Homo sapiens: one gene and its partners. The protein of the gene in region 4 purifies or fractionates together with the protein of the main gene of each other region. This does not show direct contact. Each region holds a gene or a part of one and is shown on either strand. Other genes may lie near its edges.

What was found.
Region 1: the proteins of BPGM (region 4) and EIF1AX purify together in Homo sapiens (affinity purification with mass spectrometry, with the first as the bait; one large-scale study listed by BioGRID). This does not show direct contact.
Region 2: the proteins of BPGM (region 4) and HDLBP purify together in Homo sapiens (affinity purification with mass spectrometry, with the first as the bait; one large-scale study listed by BioGRID). This does not show direct contact.
Region 3: the proteins of BPGM (region 4) and NRBP1 purify together in Homo sapiens (affinity purification with mass spectrometry; 3 studies listed by BioGRID and IntAct, with this or other methods). This does not show direct contact.

What each region holds. Positions count from the first base shown.
Region 1 is NC_000023.11:20,124,771-20,128,338, reverse strand, and holds part of EIF1AX (eukaryotic translation initiation factor 1A, X-chromosomal), read left to right. Parts: intron 1-27; coding exon 28-33; 3' UTR 34-3,568. UniProt on the Homo sapiens protein: Component of the 43S pre-initiation complex (43S PIC), which binds to the mRNA cap-proximal region, scans mRNA 5'-untranslated region, and locates the initiation codon. This protein enhances formation of the cap-proximal complex.
Region 2 is NC_000002.12:241,235,610-241,239,177, reverse strand, and holds part of HDLBP (vigilin), read left to right. Parts: intron 1-390; coding exon 391-529; intron 530-2,408; coding exon 2,409-2,563; intron 2,564-3,568. UniProt on the Homo sapiens protein: Appears to play a role in cell sterol metabolism. It may function to protect cells from over-accumulation of cholesterol.
Region 3 is NC_000002.12:27,431,577-27,435,144, forward strand, and holds part of NRBP1 (nuclear receptor-binding protein), read left to right. Parts: intron 1-1,672; exon of another isoform or gene 1,673-1,677; 5' UTR 1,678-1,697; coding exon 1,698-1,907; intron 1,908-2,096; coding exon 2,097-2,219; intron 2,220-2,412; coding exon 2,413-2,514; intron 2,515-2,894; coding exon 2,895-2,984; intron 2,985-3,145; coding exon 3,146-3,186; intron 3,187-3,556; coding exon 3,557-3,568. UniProt on the Homo sapiens protein: Required for embryonic development. Plays a role in intestinal epithelial cell fate and proliferation, thereby involved in the architectural development of the intestine potentially via the regulation of Wnt-responsive genes.
Region 4 is NC_000007.14:134,653,347-134,656,914, forward strand, and holds part of BPGM (bisphosphoglycerate mutase), read left to right. Parts: intron 1-3,568. UniProt on the Homo sapiens protein: Plays a major role in regulating hemoglobin oxygen affinity by controlling the levels of its allosteric effector 2,3-bisphosphoglycerate (2,3-BPG). Also exhibits mutase (EC 5.4.2.11) activity.

The DNA of each region.
Region 1 (3,568 bases), on a different chromosome or scaffold from region 4:
TTCATCTGATGTTCTTTTCCCTTCCAGATCTAAATTGAACTCAACATTTTACATTCCATCTTTTCTGAAGATTGTCCTACAATTTGGATTTTGATCATGACAAAGAAGATTAAAATTTCATTAGCATGAATGCAATTTGTTAAAGCAGACTGATTTGTTTCTAAGATATTTTTGGTTTTTTTAAAACTGATAATAATGCTGAATTATCTTAAGTGAGATGTTAAGCCCACTTTGTTCTTTTAATGTAATGGAGCTTATGGGTAGAAGACCATGTCTACTAATTACAAAAAAAAAAAAAAACCATGCATTGCTGCTTTTCCTACCACTTCCAGTAAGAAAATGGGTGTTTTGAAGAAATCATTTGCCTTGTCCTCACGGAATCTGATTAAGCCCTGGCCTCTTGATTGTATAGAGTCATTGTGTATATTCCAGTTACCTAGATATTCCCTTGAGATTTTGATACAATTTGAGGGAGGCAGAAGTCTGCAGTTGAAGAAAAAAAATAAGTCTGTTTGTCATATTTAAGTAGCCTGTGGCTATTTTTATACTGATTTTGATATCATGTTCTTTTCATAGTCGTATTTTGCCACCGTAAACATAAAAAAAAAAAAAAAGATTTCCAAAATGCCGTTTTCAGAACCTGGGTTTTAATAGCAGTATTGAATTTGTAAGCTTAGTAGTTGCAGAAATTGAACACTAGGTGGCACTCAGTTATCTTAACAGGGGAAGTACTGATACAATTGTTGACTTTTCTTTTACTATGTGTAAGAAATACCCCAAACATGAAAAGATTGTTTTGATCATATGCATGTATGTAGAATATTTTTGCAGAGCAGAAAGATTATGTTAGAAGTGTGATTTTTATTTTCAGAAGTCATATACATGTAAGCTACAATTTTGAGTGCTTTATAAACACTTAAGATATATATATAAATTTTAATTTCATAGCAACTTGTAAAAAATAAAATACTTGTTGAAAAGCCTTTTTCAACATATCCCTAAGCTAAGGGAAGAGGAAGGAATAACAACTCAGTGAAAAGATGGTCTCCAGTTTCTGAATGAAAAAGCTACAGCTGAGAAATAAAATAAAATGTCATGCTGCAGAATATGTTATACCCTTATTTTGTGTTAAGGATATATTTTATTATGTGAATGGTTTTGTTTTTGTTTTTTGTTTTTGTTTTTTGCTTGTATTGGGAATTAGCTTTACTGGTAACTTCCTTATTTAGTTTTTAGTGGTCAACTCTAATAAAATGAAACTAGGGCTGAGCTAGTTAGCCCTCACTAGCCAAACTGAAACTCTATGCAACATTAAAAGAAGAGATCCATCATGTAGCTTGTGACACTTTTATTTTATTAGTCACCGGGGAACTTTTCAGTGATGAAAATACACAGGGTAATAAACCTTCACATGGCTTCAAAAGGAAAACAAGCAAATCTTCTCTAATCTACTCTTACTATAATTTCCTAAGTGTACACCAAACTCTGGATTTAAAAATCTGAAGTACTATAGAACATTAAGTTGAAGAATGGAAATTAAGAGTACGTATTCATGGTTTATATTTCTTATTCTATGGAGTTCGTGAACACATCTAGGTGGAATGCATCTGAGACTAAGGGCTGGTTTTTAATCCTCATAAGAAACCAGCCTTGAAGAATTAACAATTCTCTTCATTGGTATTCTAAACCTCCTAAGATATTTAGGCTTCTGTACATAAAAGTGTTTTTGCTAAATTTACAGTATATATAGATCCTTTCATATTATTTTACTAAGAATGTTTGAACTTTGCATATTTGATATAGTTCCTGGTAGGAATAGCACAGCTCAAACATTAGTTTTTCTACTTACCTCCTCTAACACGTGGTTTGTCTGGAGAGTTTCTAAAAATTCAGCTATAACCCCAGTTCATGTATTTACTGGTGATTGTTCTTGCTGAGGTAGTAACAGCCCAATCTTGGGCTGTTAAATCCTAGGAAATCTCGAATCATAGTGATTAAAATAGTTGGGGTAAAGTTGTAGCTTATATGCAATACTACTTGGAGGAATTCTTCTACTAATTTGTATTTAATGTGGAAATTGTATAGTTTCATTGATTTAATCATAAATAATGGAAATGGTCTCCAAGAAGTTTTATTTTTCATTTTTTTGCTTATACACTCTGATTCCTATAATACAGTGCTATAAGCTATGCACAGAAAATAAAATGTTTGAAATCCAAGAATAATGGTTCTTACTGCTAAGAGGGAGTAATAGTTATTACTAATGATTTTGATTGGGTTGCATTTTTGTTGCAATGTTTATTCCACTTGCAGTTAGAATATGAATATGTTTTATCACTAGTGTGGCTAAATAACCAAACATTTGTGTAAAAAAAAAAAAAAGCCAAGATTTCATTGTTTGTTGAATATTTCTTAAGCATCTGGCCCCTAAAGAGACCGCTTCTTACCAAGCCTGTAAACTATGCATGATGGAAATTCTTGTATTTTATTTAGGAATGGCTGTTGGTTTACTCACCACATCTGTGGAATCATGGCTATAAATGTTTGCTTACAAACTCTTTGTGACTTGTAATTTAACTTAATCTCATCTAATGTAAATATTAGATTATGATGTTCAGTAACATCTTCCATAGGTATAAACTGCTGTCATTATTGATTTCAGAGTAACTCTGAGTAATCAAATAGGTAAAAGCATGTTTTGAGTAAAATAGCTAGATTTATACTTTACTTGTATACAGACTTAACAACAACCGGTATTGACTGGATTGACAGCTAAAGTATCAGAATGAAAGCAAGGTTTTTTTGATGTTACCTGACTGTCATAAAGATGAAAATGATTTGTATTGGTATGAAATGCTTATCTTTATTCTACTTCGTAAGGGTAAGTTTTATTTATACTCTTTGGACTCCCATGAACTTTTGCACACTGCTTTGTGTTTTTGGTTTACCCTAAACTACCATCCTTTTTATCTTTGCTTTTTTTCTTCCTATTCAGAAAAGAGCAAAATGTGAAAAGACACAAGACTCTCAGGTATAGAATGAACTGAGCAATTTGGAGAATGTATTGGACTTTGTCCTCTCTTATTCCCCCCTCCTAGCCCTGCAAGTTGCTAGGTACTTGTGAGGCAGTGTACTGGAGAGGGGAGAGCATGGATCCTGGGGTCAAAGGGCCTTTGCCCCCACCCTTACTTGGCCCTCTACCTGCAGGTGACCACTGGCACATTCTCCTGCTTGTCTCAGCTTCAGGTTCTTCACCTCTAAGATGGGGATGATGAAAACAGTACCTGTCATGCAGAATTGTTGGGAGGATTGATAATTTAGATGTTTATACATGTAATGTACTTAGATCAGTGTCTGCTCTTTTCACTTGATATCCAGTACTATGTAAGATAGAAGGTGCATGTCTTCTGTATTCTGTATTTCCCATTTCTTTTGCGTGCAGTCTTTGATTCGTACAATAGAAGGAACACGTAGAATGTATATTTGTACATTCATGTCAACATAGTATTTGAAATTGCTACCAAACTCATTTAATTTGGCATAAGACTAACAGATGAAGTCTCTCATT
Region 2 (3,568 bases), on a different chromosome or scaffold from region 4:
GGTCTTTAGAAGCAGTCTTTAGAGAGTGTCCCCTCCAGGCCACTCCCCTGCCAGGGCCTTGGATTCCCTTTCCCTAATAATCAAGTCTGATGCCTCCTCATGGAGTCAGAGGCTACCCCAGGAGGTCCCACTCCTTTGGCTGAATTGGCCACCCTCCAGGGATGGCACCTGGCCTTCTGGGACACATTTCAGAGGAGGCCCACCCCCTTAGACCTGTCCTGCTACCTCCCTCCTCCCTGCGCCTGGAGCCCTGGACTCGGGAGAAGGGGAGCATCTGTGCCAAGTGGCTGTAGAGGACAGGGAGGAAGGTGGTGTGAAGAGTGCTGTAAAACTTGCCCTAAGGAATTTAATCTTTGCTCTTTTCTTTTTTCTTTGTGTACCTCCCTCCAGGAAGCTCAGGTGACATTAGAATGTGCTATACCCCAGAAATTCCATCGATCTGTCATGGGCCCCAAAGGTTCCAGAATCCAGCAGATTACTCGGGATTTCAGTGTTCAAATTAAATTCCCAGACAGAGAGGAGAACGCAGGTGGGTCCCCCATTAGCCCTGCTCTGCTTGTTAATAGTGGCGCCTCCCATGTGAGAGGCGGGGCTGTCGCACATACTGGTGAGGCTCTTTCCTGTCTCTGCTGGAAAACCATCTATGTATTCTGGGGGCTTCCAGAGGTTCAGGGTCACTCCCTGGCCTTTAAAAGATGGACCACGTCAGTTACTGACAGAGTGACCAGGTGACCTTCATAGGTCCTAGAGACACACAAGGTAGCCAGTCCCAAGGCGATGAGGAGCGTGCAGCCTCATCCTCGGGTGTCCCGAGTTCAGTCCCAGTGATTCTCATGACATCGTTTGGATCGCATGAGCCCCGTCGTAGAGCTTCCTCCTCCACATCTCCCATCACTGTGGGGTGTCCCCTGTGAGGCAGGCAGCTGCAGCCTCTGGCTGGCCAGAGGGCACCATCCAAGTGGCCGGCAGTTCTAGGAGAGCATTCAGTTCCCCGTACCATGCTTGCCCCCAGCTCTGCTCATGCACCTGGTGGTGGGGAGGCGACCTGTGGGATGCGGGTCGGTTGCCTCTCTCTCACTTGCTCTGCATTTGTGAAACAAAAGGTATGCCCTCCACTCTGTGTTATCAGATGCCCGCCCTCCACTCTGTGTTATCAGTCTTGGTTGAGCTGTTTGGGCGGCAGGTGGCCCTGCAGCCTGCTGAGTGCACATAGTGTCATCTCTCTGGGCATCCAGGAAGCATGTCACACACAGCCATTCAAGCCCCTTTGTTTTCCTGAGAATACAGGGTGTTTTGAGTAGGAAACTAATAAACTCATACTGCACTCTGTCTATGTTTTACACTTCAGTGGTTATTTAAAACTTTGATTTTGATAGAATTTCACAGAATAGTATAAAGACACATCCTGTGGCACCAGTTTCTTTTCTCAACTTCTCCCCTTTTACACACGTTTTTTTTCTGAATGTCATTTTTAGACATGTCCCTTTATTCATGGTGGGTATTTTCTTAGAACAAGGACATTCTCTTACATAATTCTAGCACATTTATCGGAATCGGATTTAACATTATATAACAGTAGTATCTAATATGTTGTCGGTATTCAAATTTGCCAGTTTTTCTCCTTCAGAAACACCTACTTCCCCATCCTAGGATCACCCTTGATTTCAGGCAGGCGTCTGTCTGGTCTCCTGCTCATTTATTTACATCACACACCTCCTGGGTTCTGTCTTAGTGATAATTATTGTTGTGTCTGTTTTGTGACACTTATTGTTGTGGTGTCTATTTTGGTACACACGCGGTGTCCCAGTGTGGCCTGTAGGAGCCCCTCCAGCTGTCTTCTGTGTCCTGTTCACACGCCTCTTCACTTCTGGGGCTCTCGCTTTCTGGCATAAGGAGCTGGCACAGGTTTACCTTGGCCTTGCCCTTTCTGTCTCCCCTAGACCTCTCACCCCCCTTCCCACTGCCTCTCCTGGGTGGGGCTGCGTGCTGGCCGCCTTCCCTGATGAGCCCTGCCTCACAGTCAAGCCTCACTTGTGCAGTGGGTCTGCCCTGTGTTCCTCCCATGAACTAACTCATCTGATCTCACTGAAGCCTCTGCTGTAGTTAGTTGCTGTTAGCTTCATCTTCAAGGTGAAGAAGGGAGACACAGAGCTCACGGCCTCCCGGCAAAGCCTTCATTGCCGCCCCCCCCCCCCCCCCCAAGGTCTGGGAGCCCTCTTTGAGGCTGCTGTGGGGACGTCCTATCTGCTCTCCCTGACCAGACCAAGACCTCCTGAAGGACAGGAGTGGTTTTCCCTCCCTTTTACCACCCAGCACCCAGCAGGTGCCTCACAGACATATGCATTCTGAACAAGGTGTGGGGTCTCTTCCAGCAGCTGTCAGCTGTCCCTTTTCCCCTTTCTCTCTAGTTCACAGTACAGAGCCAGTTGTCCAGGAGAATGGGGACGAAGCTGGGGAGGGGAGAGAGGCTAAAGATTGTGACCCCGGCTCTCCAAGGAGGTGTGACATCATCATCATCTCTGGCCGGAAAGAAAAGTGTGAGGCTGCCAAGGAAGCTCTGGAGGTATGTGTCCATGTGCCCCCCTCCACCCCCCGCCAAGGCCCAGTCAGCAGGCACCTGGGGAGACGCGTGGCCTGGATGGGATGGACGGTTGCCCAAGCGGCAGTGGCAGTGGAGGTAGCCCTCTTGCTCCTACCGTGTGCGCACGGGCTGTGCTTCTCGGCTGGACACAGAGTTTGGGGAGGCCACTTCCCTTCACCAAGGCTCGGGGTTCTATAGCCCCTTTCTGGGACAGCTGCATGGGATCCGGCCTCTCAGGCCCACGGTGGGTGCGGGGGCTGTGGAAGGGTCTCAGCTGCAGGGGGATGAATGTGACCTCCAGTTGCAACGTCTCCCCCCGCGTGAGTGGGGTTATCAGGCCTAGCTCACCTTGTGTGCAGTCAGTGTCGAGTGCCACCTGCGTACTGGATGCTGCTCTCAGTGCTGCGGTGCCACAGCACACAAAAATAGTTCTCACGTTGCCGTGGAGAGACAAGCAGTCAACGCAGATATATCCTGTGGCAAGTGATGGTAAATGCTGTGGCAAGAAAGCAGGTTCTGGAGGTGAAGGGCGGTGGGGGAGACAGGGCAGGGAAGGTGAGCAGCGGTCTGAGAGTCCCTTGTGGCACCTCGTGGGCATTAGCCAAAGCCGTCCTGATCCCAAGGGACAGGGCAGGGAAGGTGAGTAGTGGTCCGAGAGTCCCTTGTGGCACCTCATGGGCATCGGTCAAAGCCGTCATGACCCCGAGGATGTGCCAGGAGTCAGGGCCTCTCCTCCTACGTGGGCCTGAAGGGGCTGCTGTAATTCAGGAGGGTAGGCTTGGGATGAAGGGTCTGGAATTTCTGTCTGCCAGCATTAGCCTAATGCAAATCTTTTCCTATTCTTTTCTATTGAGTTAAAGGTCCTGGTGGCATTGTCGGGTGGGGCACATTGCTGTTGTCATAGGGCTGTTTGCCTTGTGTTTCGTGGAGCCCCATTGCTGAGCTTACAACGTCACTCTGCTCTCAGCTCCCACGGCCTAACCATGA
Region 3 (3,568 bases), on a different chromosome or scaffold from region 4:
CACATCACAGGAAAGGTGAGGTCATCAGGGATGAAGTCACTAACAACTGCCAGTCATGTGCCCCAAGGGTAGCCTCACCATGGACTAGTGGGCTTGTTCTGTGTAGAGAAGGGATGGATAGTGAATGCCAAGGTTAGTTCTAGCTGGATAAATTAGCCAAGGGTTTCAGCTGGATAAGTTGGCTGAGGGTGCTACAGGTCTAGCCTTAAGGCTGTCTCACTGAAACATTTTGGAGTCTGGAGTCATCTGTTCTGAATAGCGCCCACATAGTTTATATTTTTTTATTTTTTGAGACAGAGTCTCACTCTGTTGCCCAAGCTGGAGTGCAGTGGCACGATCTCAGCTCACTGCAACCTCTGCCTCCCGGGTTCAAGTGATTCTCCTGCCTCAGCCTCCTGAGTAGCTGGGACTACAGGTGCGTGCCACCACACCCAGCTAATTTTTTTATTTTTAGTAGAGACAGGGTTTTGCCATGTTGGTCAGGCTGGTCTCGAACTCCTGACCTCAGGTAATCCACCTACCTCGGCCTCCCAAAGTGTTGGGATTAAAGGCGTGAGCCACTGTGCCCGTCCACACATAGCTTAATTCTTGAGCACAGTAAAAATAGGGTGTACTTGGGGATTCAAAGGGAAGCCTATTGGATGAGTATTTGCCAAGAAGGAATGGAGCACCTGATTTTGCTGGTGATTTGAACCTTACTCTAAGTGGGATTAGACTGCCATAAATCTTGTGTTTGTCATTCCTGGGAGGGTCATCTTCAACTAAGATAGCTCCCCTTTTCTAGACTAGAGTTAGGAGAATAGTTAATGTTTCAGTATTTAGGACTGATTCTGATTTTGGATTTAAAGGAAACAAAGGTGGTGTGTGTTTTCTATTTTTAATTTTTAAAAGTTTTGTGTAGAGACTGGGGTCTTTTTATGTTGTCCAGGCTGGTCTCAAATGCCTGGCCTGTTTTATTTTCTTTTGAATTTGCAGATAAGTATTAGGATTATTAAATCTTTTTTTTTGTTTGTTTGTTTTTTGTTGAGACAGGGTCTCCCTCTGTTGCCTAGCCAATGGCATGATCATAGCTCACTGCAGCCTCAAACTCCTGGGCAATCAAGTGATTCTCCCATCAGCCTCTCGGGTAGCTGGGACTATAGCTGTGTACCACCTTGCCCTGCTAATTTTTAAATTTTTTTGTAAAGATGGGGTCTCACTTTGTTGCCCAGGCTGGTCTCAAACACCTGGCCTCAAATGAACCTCTTGCCTCGGCTTCTCAAAGTGCTGGGATTACAGAGGTGAGCCACTGTGCTCAGCTGGATTACTAAATTTTTTTTTGAGATGGGGTCTTGCTCTGTCACCCAGGCTGGAGTGCAGTGGCGTGATCTCAGCTCACTGCAACCTCCACCTCCCTGGTTCAAAAAAATTCTCCTGCCTTAGTCTCCTGAGTAGCTAGGACTACAGGCACGCGTCACCACACCCAGCTAATTTTGTATTTTTAGTAGAGATGGGGTTTCACCATGTTGATCAGGCTGGTCTTGAACTCCTGACCTCAGGTGATCTGCCCACCTCAGCCTCCCAAAGTGCTGGGATTACAGGCATGAGCCACCACGTCCAGCCTGGATTACTAAATCTTTACAGATGTATCCTGACTTTCTCTGCCTTTTCCCTCTGTATTTGCCCCAACCAGTGCAGGCCTGAGTGTTCCTTCCAGCATGTCGGAGGGGGAGTCCCAGACAGTACTTAGCAGTGGCTCAGACCCAAAGGTAGAATCCTCATCTTCAGCTCCTGGCCTGACATCAGTGTCACCTCCTGTGACCTCCACAACCTCAGCTGCTTCCCCAGAGGAAGAAGAAGAAAGTGAAGATGAGTCTGAGATTTTGGAAGAGTCGCCCTGTGGGCGCTGGCAGAAGAGGCGAGAAGAGGTAAGGTTATGGTACAGTTACTCTTGGGTGAGTGAATTCTGGAAAGGTGAGAACTGGAAGAGCAAAGTCTTAAAAGAGGCCAACCAAACTTCAATAGGTTGGGGGCTAGGAGGAGATGATCATATGGAGTGTTAAAATGGAGGATTTGTGAGATAAGTTTAATTCTCTTTCATATGAATTTCTTCTCAGGTGAATCAACGGAATGTACCAGGTATTGACAGTGCATACCTGGCCATGGATACAGAGGAAGGTGTAGAGGTTGTGTGGAATGAGGTACAGTTCTCTGAACGCAAGAACTACAAGCTGCAGGAGGTAGGTGATGCTGAAAAGGTGAAGCCTGGGGAATGTTGGAACACTGATGTTAGAGAGGAATTGGTGTTGGGAAGCTGCCCGTGAGGAGAGTATGTTGGGGTTAGATCGTTTCTGGGGAGGGATAGGGAATGGCTTCTCAGGATTATTACAGTGATTTGTGACTCTGTTATTCCACTGTCTCCCTTGCTTTCAGGAAAAGGTTCGTGCTGTGTTTGATAATCTGATTCAATTGGAGCATCTTAACATTGTTAAGTTTCACAAATATTGGGCTGACATTAAAGAGAACAAGGCCAGGGTAAGAATTTTTTCCCCATATTTCCTGAACTTATTGCAAAGAGACTAGCTACATTTATTATTGTTCCTTTTACACTCAGAGATTAAAACAAGGTAGTTTTGAAACAGAACTGGAATCAGCTGCAATGGCGATAAGAGTAGGGCTTCAGTTGTCACCTATGCCTTTTGTGTGGCTATAGATTGGGCAGAAAATGAGTGAACTTTTGCTTCTTTCTTCCCATAACTTTCATTGCTTGTTTTCATTGCCCTATTTAGTCTAAGTAAGTAAAGCTAAGAACAAAAGGAGAGAAATTTTAACAAACCTTCAAATTTAAAATATGTTAACAAGGGAAGGGATCATTTCTACTATAAGGCCTTTTAGTAAGTGCTTTGCCTCCCCAGGTCATTTTTATCACAGAATACATGTCATCTGGGAGTCTGAAGCAATTTCTGAAGAAGACCAAAAAGAACCACAAGACGATGAATGAAAAGGTATAGAAGGAGAGCAGACAAAGTTTGAGGCTGGTTTTTGGGGGTGGTTTTAAAAAGGACTCTGTTAATAATGAAGCTGATCAGGAAGGGACGGAAGGAGCTAGTGGGAGAGAGTTAAGAGAGGGAATTACTGCTGACCCTTGGATCCAACTTTGTTCCAGGCATGGAAGCGTTGGTGCACACAAATCCTCTCTGCCCTAAGGTAAGTAGTACCTGGTTAGTTTCTTACCCATATTTCCTGATGTAGTTACTCCAAACAGATTTCAGGGCACTACTCTTCTGTTCTATTCTGCCTCTCCCCACTTTCTTTGAATCATATACTGTCAAGATTAGGGCCCCTACGGGTCTTTTAAAGGGTGCGTCCTAATGCCCTAACCACGACACTTATCTCCTACCTCTTTCTCCTAGTGCTTATCCAGCTATTTAAATCATCAGGCATAATGGAGATTCAGAGTGTGGGGATTATCTTTATGGTGACCAGCAGGAGACCTGGCCCTTGCTCCTCTTAACCCTTGGGTTCCCCCTGCCCTTAATTTCCCAGTGGCCCCTCTAACAGCCCAGTGCCCCCACAGCTACCTGCACTC
Region 4 (3,568 bases):
TCACTTAAACGGCCATTGTCCTGGTCCAAGTCTTTATTCTGTGTTACCAGAATTATTGCAAAAACCTCTCAGCTAGTGTTCATACTCCTGGGTTTTCCTGTCTATTTCTGTAAGTAAGTGCTGCCTGATCCTGCTAAAATGCATGCTACTAAACTTTTAATGATGTCCCAATATGTATAGAAAAACCTACATGCTTTGGCACAGGCTTTTTTTGTGTCACTATTTTTTCTTATCTTTCTAGGCTAGTCTTCTCCTGCTTCCTTATTATACCCTATACTTACAGTGGCCATATAATTTTCCAAATGGGACACTTAAGTGTGAAAGGGGCCCTAGTAGTAATTATGTTGGGGAAACAGGCCTAAGACAATACTGTTCTGTAATAATGATGCATGTGCCTCTTTCTCCTAACTACCCTCTCTGTCTTGACCTTGCCAAAAGAATGCTAATCTTGAACCATAACTTCAATTTTATGGTGGCATTTATGGAAAGAATATTTTTTGCCTATTAGGCAAATCAGGATGTATGGTTACTCTAGCTATACTCCAACCAGTTTGAATGGGCTCGCCATTTTCCATATGTACCTGTTCCTTTGCCTTCACTCACTGTTCCCCTAGATTGGAATTCCTTTACTTTTTTCTGTAAATCTAAACCTTGCCTTTCCAAATCCAGCTTAAAAAATACTGTGTCCACGAAGCCTTACTCAGAAATATTCTCTCCCATCCCACCTCTCTTTTACTAATGAAGTGCTTTCTCATGGTGTGAATTACTTTGAGTTTTAGGTACACACACACACACACACGTACTGAAGATGAAGACATAATTCTTGTTGGATTACATATTCCTCATAGGCCTAGCATTGGGCCATGCCTAAATGGGATCTGCAAAATGTTTGAAGAATGAATTAATTGGTCAGGCTAGGGCGACTGAGTATTTGGGGCTTTCAATTTATGAGTCATCCATTTTAATGTGATTAAAGCAGTGAGAAAAGGGTTTCCAAGAACTGAAGACTGAGCCTCAGGTTTCAATGTGACAGTGTAGCAAAATGGTTCAGGGCATAGATACAGACTTCTCGAGACTAAATTCCAGCTCTGCCATTTACAGCCTCTGTTACCTTAGGCAAGTTAACCTTTCCTCCTGTTTCTTCATCTGTGAAATGGGAGTAATCATAGTAGCCACTCCATGGAATGGTGGTTGAGGATTCAAACAGTGCCAAGTAACATTGAACTAACATTCACAGGTGAGCACTCTGTGAATGTTGGCTACTGTGACTAATATGATCATCTTCATAGTACTCTTACAGGTAGGTAAGAAAATGCAGACACCCAAGACCAAGATGTAACCGTGGAAGAGCTGGAGGAAATGCTACACCAAAATCTTAGTGGGTTTTTTTTCTTGATGGAAGTAGTCTGTTTTAGAGAAGTCATGAGAGAAGATGATCTCCACTTAGTAAGAAGTAACTAACCTGTAGTCTTTTGAGGCACCATTTCAGTAGAGTGGGTAAGGCACAAGTTTGGTGTCAGGAAACTAAAAAAGGAATGGCTAGAAGGGAAGGTAAATGGACAAGAGGAAGGGGAGGGAGGATAAGATACACAGCTGTGTAAAAGATGTTTCCTTAGTAAACTTTTTCTTCAAGCCAGATCACACTTTAAAAAGGAAGACACCCTGGGGGATAAATCAATAACCTATGTGTTCTTTTTTTGACATGATGTAAATTATTGATTAAAATCGGTACTTAAGTGCCAGTAACTTTTGCTATGGGATAAATGAGAAACCAGGTACAGGTTGGTGAGCTTTTATGAAAAACAAAACAAAACAAAAAAAATAAAGCTTGAGGTTGAAAAGGAATAGTTTTTAATTTGGGATGGGGAGTATTTATTCTTAGTAAGGTTCCTCTTTATAAGTTGGGGTGACTATTGCCTGGCTTACTTTGTGCCTTGAGGTTTTTCTCAAGAGTACTAATAAGGTGAGCCCTCCTTCATGTTCACCTTGTTCGTTTGCGTTTGATGAAATGGCTGCCTGGGTTTGGAAGGACAAGTTGGAACTGGAGATACCCCTGTGAAGTGAAGCCAAGTGAGCCAAGATCCTCAAACCATGACTCTAATATCTCCAGTGGGGGGTTGAAGGCAGAAGACCAGGGTTGCAGTTCCAGTTTGCCATTTACTGGCCATATGTTTTTGAACAAGTCAATCAGAATCTCCATTTTTTTCTGTGGAGATTATGGCCATCCATGAACATACTAAACTTATAGTACAAAAGTACAAAGTACAGAACTATAATGGATAATTATTCTTGGCTCCTGTTTTGACATAAATACCCTGAGATTCTTAAGTTAAAGTTTCCTAACATCTTAGCCCTGCCAACTGATTTTACTGTGGCAGTTACCACTAAAACTCTCAAGCCTTAGTCTCATGTGTACAATCCAGTCATTTCTGTCTGACTTTGGTTCAGTCAGTACACCTACTGAGTGCCTCATATGTGCCAAGCGATGTGCTAGGTTCTAGAGATACAGCAGTAAGACCTGCCTTGATGCAGCTTACAGTCTTACAGGGCACATAGCCATTGAACAGGTAATATATCTCAAGGGATCCATCGCAAGTGCACCAAATGTGGTTAAGCGGGATGCTACAGGAGTAGGTCAGCAGGCCTGACCTACTTCCCAATGGGTGAAGAGGAAGTCTAAAGCCAGGGGTTCTCAAAACATGGTCCTTGGACCAGCCATGTCACCATCACCTGAGGACTTGCTAGAAATGCATATTCACAGTCCCACCCCAGACCTACTAAATCAAGCTCTGGAAGTGGGCCCAAGCAATCTGTTTAATTTGATTTTGATATACATTAAAGTTTGAGAACCACTGGCCTACAGGAACTAACATTTAAGCTGAGCTCTAAAGCTGCATGATCTAGTGCGGTAGCCACTGGTCACATGTGGCTATGGAGCACTTGAAATGTGGCTGGTTCACATTGAGATATGCTTTCATTATAAAGTACACACCAGATTCCAAAGACATACTGTGAAAAAAAAGAATGTAAATTGCCTTATTAATAATTTTTGTATGGATCATGTGTTAGAATTGTATTAGTTCTCATGCTGCTAATAAAGACATATCAGAGACTGGGTAATTTTATAAAGGAAAGAGGTTTAAATGATTCACAGTTCAGCATGGCTGGAGAGGCCTCAGGAAACTTACAATCATGGTGGAAGGGAAGCAAACATGTCCTTCTTCACATGGTGGCAGCAAGGAGAAGTATAAGTGAAGTGGGGGCAAAGCTCCTTATAAAACCATCAGACCTCGTGAGAACTCACTTTCTATCATAAGAACAGCATGAGGGTAACTGTCCCCATGAATCAATTACCTCCCACTGGGTCCCTCCCATGACACATGGGGATTATGGGAACTACAATTCAAGATGAAATTTGGTCTTGGCCCCTCCCAAATCTCATGTCCTCTCATTTCAAAACATAATCATGCCCTTTCCAACAGTCGCCCAAAGTCTTAGCTCATTTCAGCATCAACCCAAAAGTCCAAATCCAAAGTCTCATCTGAGACGAGGCAAGCCCTCTCTGCCT